Homo sapiens: one gene and its partner. The protein of the gene in region 2 purifies or fractionates together with the protein of the main gene of each other region. This does not show direct contact. Each region holds a gene or a part of one and is shown on either strand. Other genes may lie near its edges.

What was found.
Region 1: the proteins of ARMC3 (region 2) and NMT2 purify together in Homo sapiens (affinity purification with mass spectrometry; one large-scale study listed by BioGRID and IntAct). This does not show direct contact.

The regions. Positions count from the first base shown.
Region 1 is NC_000010.11:15,130,517-15,134,330, forward strand, and holds part of NMT2 (glycylpeptide N-tetradecanoyltransferase 2), read right to left. Parts: intron 2,848-3,814; coding exon 2,729-2,847; intron 2,629-2,728; coding exon 2,537-2,628; intron 2,418-2,536; coding exon 2,301-2,417; intron 1-2,300.
Region 2 is NC_000010.11:22,926,462-22,931,039, forward strand, and holds the start of ARMC3 (armadillo repeat-containing protein 3), read left to right. Parts: upstream 1-1,591; 5' UTR 1,592-1,645; intron 1,646-4,578. UniProt on the Homo sapiens protein: Essential for male fertility and sperm motility. During spermatogenesis, promotes the autophagic degradation of excessive ribosomes, providing energy resources for mitochondria and thus ensuring sperm flagellar motility.

The DNA of each region.
Region 1 (3,814 bases), 7.8 Mb from region 2:
GGCAACACTGAGACTCTCATCTCTACAAAAAACAAACACCAGCCAGTCATGTTGCCGCATGCATGTGGTCCCAGCTACTTGGGAGGCTGAGGTGGAAGGATCACTTGAGCCTGAGAGGCAGAGGGTGCAGTGAGCCATGATTGCATCACTGCCCTCCAGCCTGGACAACAGAGCAAGGCCCTGTCTCAAAAAAAAAAAAAAAAAAAAAAAAGAAAAGAAAGAAAAAGAAAAAAAAGAACATAAAGGCCATTCTATTTTCTTCTTTCTTTCTTTTTTTTTTTTTTTTTTTTTGAGACAGATTGTCGCACTGTCACCCAGGCTGGAGTGCAATGGCGCAATCTTGGCTCACTGTAACCTCTTACTCCTGGGTTCAAACGATTCTCCTGCGTCAGCCTCCTAAGTAGCTGGAATTACAGGTGCACGCCACCATGCCCAGCTCATTTTTGTATTTTTAGTAAAGACAGGGTTTCACCATGTTGGCTACGCTGGTCTCGCATTCCTGACCTCATGATCTACCTGCCTCGATCTCCCAAAGTGCTGGGATTATAGGCGTGAACCACCCACCGCACCTGGCCTGAAAGCCATTCTTTAACACAATATTTAACAAAAATATTCTATCACTTAGACATTTCACAAATTCAGACGGAAACACTATTCCCCATATCTCCCTGCCAAAATGATTGTAAAACGCACGGAGGCTCCAACCCTCTTGTTCTAAATACATTTTGGGACTTTGGTCCATTATACGTTTTCAGTTTAGAAAATGGATCAGCTATGGCTCTTTACGTTTCTTTCCTTTTTTTTTTTTTTCCTTTTTTGAGATGAGGTCTCGCTATGTTGACCAGGCTGGTCTCGACCTCCTGGCCTCAAGCAATCCTCCCATCTCAGCCTCCCAGTGCTAGGATTACAAGCATGAATCACTACGACCTGCCCGTCTTTAAGTTTCTAGATCTGTTTTTCCTAAATTATGGTAATAACTGAGTCATCCTGGTGCAGAATCTGATAAGATGTTGCTTTGGAGTGTGATACAAACCCCTGGGACCCCTGAGAGGGGCTTTGAGCAGACCAGAGCTGGTGCGCTCTGAACTACAGTAAACCTCCTAGATCTTCAAATCCTGTTCCTGGTTCTGTTTCCAGGTACACACTTCATTTGGCACAAAATATTCCTTGAGATCAAATGCTTTTCACAGTAAATAAGCTAACCTAATACACTGACAAGTAAAGAGACCAATTATATATGACATCTTTGACTTTCATAGCTGGATCTTTGACTTTCCGGGCTGGAGATCCAAACTAAAAGTGCAATGTATCCTATGGAGAGAAAGCTTTATCTCTCCTAAAAAATTTTTAAGTAATTTTTTTTTTTTGAGATGAAGTCTTGCTCTGTCACCCATGCTGGAGTGCAGTGGTATAATCTTGGCTCACTGCAATCTCTTCCTCCTGGGTTCAAGTGATTCTCGTGCCTCAGCCTCCCAAATAGCTAGGATTACAGGCACGTGCCACTATGCTGGCTAATTTTTGTATTTTTAGTAGAGATGGGGTTTCGCCATGTTGGCCAGGCTGGTCTCGAACTCCTGACCTCAAGTGATCTGCCAGCCTCGGCCCCGACCAAAGTCCTGGAATTACAGGTGTGAGCCACTGTGCCTGGCCAAGGCTTCGTTTTTTCTGATACATATATGTGTGAGCATGTATGAGATTGAGAGGCAGAGAGAGAAAAAGAGAAAAAGAAACCATTGTCCTTTATTTTTATTCACAGTCCGTTTTTTTTTCTTTACTACTTAATAAATTTATATTTTAAAACAGTTTTAGGTTCACAGCAAAACCAATCAGAGAGTTTCCATAAAGCCTCTGCCTCCACACATACACAACCTCCCTGATCACCGGACAGCTTGCATTCAGTCATTTTTATTTTTATTTTTATTTTTTTTGAGATGGAGTTTCGCTCATGTTGCCCAGGATGGAGTGCAGTGGCGCAATCTCGGCTCACTGCAACCTCCGCCTCCTGGGTTCAAGCAATTCTCCTGCCTCAGCCTCCTGAGTAGGTGGGATTACAGGTGCCTACCACCACGCCCAACTAATTTTGTATTTTTAGTAGAGATGGGGTTTCACCCATGTTGACCAGGCTGGTCTTAAACTCCTGAGCTCAGGTGATCTATCTGCCTCAGCCTCCCAAAGTGCTGGGATTAGAGGTGTGAGCCACTGCGCTTGGCCTGCATTCAGTAACTTTTAAAGGCCTAATCTAATTGTAATTCTTAGAAAATAAACATATAAAAACCGCATGGACGAGCTTAAACATGTACCTGTCATAAATCCGAATGTTTGCTGGGATGGCACTTATGAACCCGACCAGTTTTTTATTTGAAGACACTCTGACCCCACAGTGCCACTGCAGGAGCCAGCCTGGTGGACGCAGAGCCCTGAGGTCACGGTAGACAAGAAAACAGGCACCAGTTATTGTCCAAGAACACAGGAACAGACGCAGGAGTCCCCAAGTCAGCAGCGCCTATCCACGACATCTGTGATCGATGAGACTTACCACAACAGGAACTCGGGTGAATAGTCAAATCGGAACATATTGTCATCATCTTCTACGTAATTCTCATTTAACAACGTGTATAACTCCTTGAGCTATAAGATAAAACAAGTGTCCTATCCATGGTGCTCAGAATCAACTTAGAAGCAATGTGTGAATGCAGGAGTTGAATTTAAGAGGTTTTTACTCACTCACCACTTCGGCATCACTCAAGTCTAAAGTGTCCCACATAAAACCCTGTGGCAAAGAATACGGTTCTTGGCGTACGTTGTCTTTATCTGGTTCAATTGCACCATGAGATGTTATGACTTCATCTGAACAGGGAGAGAAAGAGAAAAAAGAAAGGCAAAAAGCGAGAATATTAAATGACAAAGTATTCTAACCATCCAAAGTGGTCAGTGACATAAGCAAAATCTGACTTAGGGCCCTCGGGTTTCAGATAATCTTTAAAAAGATGCTGTTATATCAAGCGCCTCTGGACTGAAACAGGAAAGCTAGGCAGTGGTGTGAAATCATTGCTGTTTCACCAATTATTTTTCTTTTCTTTTTTCTTTTGAGACGGGGTCTCACTCTGTCGCCAAGGCTGGAGTGCAGTGGTGCAATCATGGCTCACTGAAGCCTTCAACTCCTGGGCTCAAGCGATCCTCTCTCCTCAGCCTCCCAGGTAGCTGGGACTAGAGTTGTACAACACAGTGCCCGGCTAATTGTAAATTTTTTTTGTAGAGACGGAGTCTCATTATGTTGCCCAAGCTGATCTCAAACTCCTGGGTTCAAGTGATCCTCCCACCTCAGCCTCCCAAAGTGCTGGGATTGTAGGTGTGAGCCACCACAGCTGGCCTATTTTGCCAATTAAATGAAAGGAGAAATCCTTTGTCATCCAGTGACAAAGATGACATTACAAAACAACAGTGATTCCGAGTCTCAAGGCCTACAATGCAGCCTTATCTTACACACTGTCATAAGCAATGTAGGTTTCATTCAACAGCCTTGGGAGGTGTGTTCTTTTTACTGCATTTCCACAAACTGGGAGAGGAAAGGGCTGCGGTGACCTCTGCCCCTCCCAGCAAAACCTAAAAATAATTTCAAGGCTGGTTACTTCTCCCCATCTAAACTGCTAGCAGCGTAGTTCAGGCCATCACAATTTCTAGTGATTTCCACCAAGAAGAGTTTTCCAAGTCCTTCTCTGCAGAGCTTCCCAACATGGTAGGACTAAAACCCAGGCTCTTCCCCATGGCTGCTGCCTGCCTCGGCCCCTCTCCACACCCTCCCTGCCCCCTGCTC
Region 2 (4,578 bases):
AGTCATGACCAAGAAGAGAAAGAAAACAATAGGATAATAGTTAGAAGGAACAACAACATCAAAGGGATTTTATTTGTTTTTGCTTTTTAGATGAGGCATGGGAGGGGCTTCAACATAATTATATACCAACAGGAAAAAACGTGGAAGACAGGGAGAGGCTGAAAATACAGGTGTATATTATTCAAGGTCCAATCATATAACACTTGATGACGCTTATATTCTTGAAACTCCCTCCTTAGTTTCCTTGATGCTACTTGGTCTTAATCCTTTTCCTACTTTCATGACCATTACTTAAGATCTTTTCTATACAGAAGTCACACCGGATATTTGACCATGGAAAACTGAATACAAATAATTGTTATAAAGCTGTTTATCAGGCAATTTAAATGGTGAGAAGAGAACATAAGATATATAAAAGTAGCAATTATAAGAAGCATCTATCATTCTTAGGACTGGGAGACCAACAGGGGCCGGTAGGAGACGGAATTTGCAAAGTCTAAGAGGAGAGGGAGAGACTTTTTGCTAAAGGCAATCAAAAAATATTTTATGAAGATGGCATTTGAGCTGGGCTTAATTAAGTGGAAATGAGAGAATATTTCAGGTATTGCACATGACCTGGGAAATAGAAGCTACTTTATAAATATTTGTTGAAAAATGAAGTGATGAACAGATAAGCAAGAAAATCTAGAGAAAAGTGTGGAAAATTTCGGGAACAGTAAGTTTGGCTGGAGCTTGGATGGTGGAGATCGGTTGAAAATGTGGTTGCACAGATGGAGTAGAGATGGAGCAGACGGTCTTAAATTCCAGGCCAATGTGTTGAAAATTTATCTTAGGAAGCCGCTGACATTTGAGTAGGGAAGTGACAAGACTGGAACGATGATTTCTGGATGGCCGATTTGCCTGTGATACGTAGAAAGAACTGTAAGCAGAGAGCAACTGAATTTCTCAGCCAGAAGGCCAAAAAATGACGAGCTGGATTGAAGTGACAATAAGGATATGAGAAAGGGAACAAGCAGGAAACAAAATGTAAGCCGCCAAGAAGTGGCTGAAGTGATGACTGTGGTTGGGGGGCATGGGAGGAAGAAGGGAAATTGAAGCTCCTTCTGAGTCTAGGCAATTGGAAGAATGGCAGGAAGAGGAAAGAAAGAGGAAGAGAACGGGGCTTTGAAGGGCCATGAGAAGTTCTGTGGAAACGGATTGGACATCCTAGTGCAAAGAGATGTGGCAGTGCAGGTCTGCAGCTTAACGGAGCCTGGGCAGGAGGTGGCTGATGTGGGTTTCATCTGCATAGAGATTCCGGCTGACGCCTCTATTTGGAAGAATGCAATAGTATTTGCGTATTTGAACCCACAGCCAGTCCTTGGGCCAGAAACTGAGGCTGAACTGCCTCTTGATTTACAGCTTCCACCCCCAGTTTCCATTCTCCCCTAAAGCACTGGATTCAGGTAATCGCGGACGCACTTGGCTCCTCCCGCACTGGCCGCTGCCCTCGGCGGGACAATGGGCGCCCTAGCAGCCCCGAGCGTTCCCAGGGCGCAGGCGCGGCGCGGCGTGGCGTCGCCTAGCAACGAGGCACAACAAGGGACTGGGGGTTCGTCTGCTGGGTTTGCGGAGCAGCTAGCTACTCGGCGGGATCTCCCGGCAGGTAAAGGTAACCCCGTGGGGTGGGGAGGCCCAAGGCAGAGGCCTGAGGAAAACCTGGGAAAGGAGAAGGTGCCACGTGGGCGCAGACTGCTTGGGTCAGTGAGGCAACACCTTGCTGGGCGTTGTTAGTTTCTGCCTCGCGCCCGCAGGGTTAGACGGGGCTTGGGGTGGGTTTCGTAAGCATCCCGCCACCTCCCATTCAACAGGTGACAAAACTGAGGCCCGAGAGGGGATCTGAGGTGAGATCAAGTCAGATTCCGTTACTTGACTGTGAGCAACTCAGAAGTGGCCTCGATTTCTTGAGCCCTCCTCCTCTTTAAATCTTCTCAAAGCAGAACTCATTAGAAAATATTTAAAATCATAGGCTGAACGTTCACGAAGAACAAATACAAAGGACCAATCAACTCGTGAAAAAAAAAATGGCTCCAGTAGTCAAGAAGATGCATTTTTAGAGCAGAGTTGTTTGCATATCCAATGCCCTGAAGTTTTCACCCAGTTAATTTACTGCTAGAGATTTATCCTAAAGAAATAGTTGGGGATAATGGATGAAAATTTTATGTCCAAGGACGTTCTTTCAGCCCTGTCCATATTTCCAGAAAATTAGAAACAAATTTCAACAATCAGAGACTGGCTAGATAGCTAAGGGATTTTAAAATATTTGTAATGGCATGTTATGCTAATCCACTGGAGATTATTAAAGCAATGAAGGGAAACTGAGACTTCATGAATTTATTTGTTAATATAAGAATTTAGTAGGAATATGAACCCAGGAAGGGAAGGTGAAAGTAGGGGATAGAAGTTGAGGCAGGATGTTAAAATCACTTTAGAAAAACACACAAAGCCAGGTACGGTGGCTCACGCCTACAACCCCAGCACTTTGGGAGGCTGAGGCGGGTGGATCGCCTGAAGTCAGGAGTTCGAGACCAACCTGGTCAATGTGGGGAAACCTGTCTCTACTGAAAATACAAAAATTAGCCGAGCGTGGTGGCGGGTACCTGTAATCCCAGCTACTCAGGAGGCTGAGGCAGGAGAATCTCTTAAACCTGGGAGGTGGAGGTTGCAATGAGCCAAGATCAGGCCACTCTCCAGCCTGGGCAACAGAGTGAGACTCTGTCTCAAAAAAGAAAAAGAAAAAGAAAAAAAGAGAAGAGAGAGAGAGAGGGAGAGAGAGAGAGAGAAAGAGAGAGAGAAAGAGAAAGAAAAAGAAAAAGAAAGGAAAGGAAAGGAAAGGAAAGGAAAAGAAAAGAAATAGTATTGATCTCTCTGAGCTTATCTTTGGGTGATTTTTATTTTATTCGTTGTGCCCTTGTTTTCCAAATTCTCCACAGTGAAATGTATTACCCTTGTAAGGATCATCTCCATAGCTCATTGCCACCGACCTATGTCAGCTGTTCAGTCTCTCCTCCATTAACTATCATACCCAATATGGTGATAAAACACATAGGCTTTTTTTGGGGGAGGAGACAGAGTCTCGCTCTGTCACCCAGGCTGGAGTGCAATGGGGTGATCTCAGCTTATTGCAACCTCCGCCTCCCGGCCTCAAGCAATTCTCCTGCCTCAGCCTCCCCAGTAGCTGGGAATGCAGGCACATGCCACCGCCACTCCAGGCTAATTTTTGTATTTTTAGTAGAGACAGAGTTTTGCCATGTTGTCCAGGCTGGTCTTGAGCTCCTGACCTCAGGTGATCCACCCGCCTCAGCCTCCCAAAGTGCTGGGATTACAGGAGTGAGCCACCACGCCGGGCCATGATAAAACACATAGGCTTTTAACTTCATTCTTTAGCTTAGGAGACACTCTATCATTGCAATACTGTCTGTGTAAGCTCTTCTAACCTCTGCACTATGCAATTGCTCAAAAACACTATCCTGAAGTAGGAAAAATTAGTTCCTAAGTGAAAATCAGATGATTTAAAACAACTTTATGCAGGTGTAATTAAATTGCTTCCTGAATATTATTCATAAGCAATTATTTTATAAATCAAAGGCTGCTCTGTCTTGGAATTGGTTATAGAGTGCTATAAACTCTCTCTTTTTTTTTTCCTAGAGATTAATTGTAGGATAGATTCTCATTTGCCCAGAATAGTTTCTGCCTCTCTGCCTGAAATATTATAGGCACAAGGTCTAGGGCCTGTTCACTTTTCAAGCACCTAAGGAAGATGTTTGAGATTTGAAAAAAATGCTTATATTGGCTCTAAAATATGAAAAGAGAACTGAAAAATTAGTGTTAATTAAATGTTTTATTAATATAAATTTTTATTACATTTGAAAACAATTTTCTCATTTTACAAGAATTTCCAGGTGTATGTACTGATTGCTGAGTAATTTCAAATACAAATTTCAAAAGTTTTTATGATGCAAATGACATTTAATGGGCGATGCAGGCACATTTTAACATTTTAATATATTGGCTATTGTGTGAATAAGCTTGCCCAGGCCCTCCAAAGTCTTAAAAGTAGTGTGGTCTGAAGTTAGAGACCTAGAATAAATGCCTTTCAGAAGTATCTAGGAGTTTCTATGAAGACGTGGCTTTTTAATGTATGTGATAAATTCTGGTCAGTGTCTCTAATGCTAGGAGTTGCTTTTGACCCTTGACATGCAATTTGAGCTAACCCTGACACTGTAGATTCTCCCCAAGGATTTTCTACTTCCTAGGATTTCTACTGAGACTATGGTAATTTCCTTAAGGCTATGATATACCGTTTAAGATTGCTCCTACGATATACCGTTTAAGATGGCCCTGATGTCAAACATAATTCCACAAACTCTCACTGAAGAAAACTAGATAGATTTCCTGGGTTATTCTAATAGACATTAACATCTTGAAAAGTTTCTTTTTTTTTTTTGAGACAGTCTCACTCTGTTGCCCAGGCTGGAATGCAGTGGTGCGATCTCGGCTCACTGCAGCCTCCGCCTCCCGGGTTCAAGTGATTCTTGT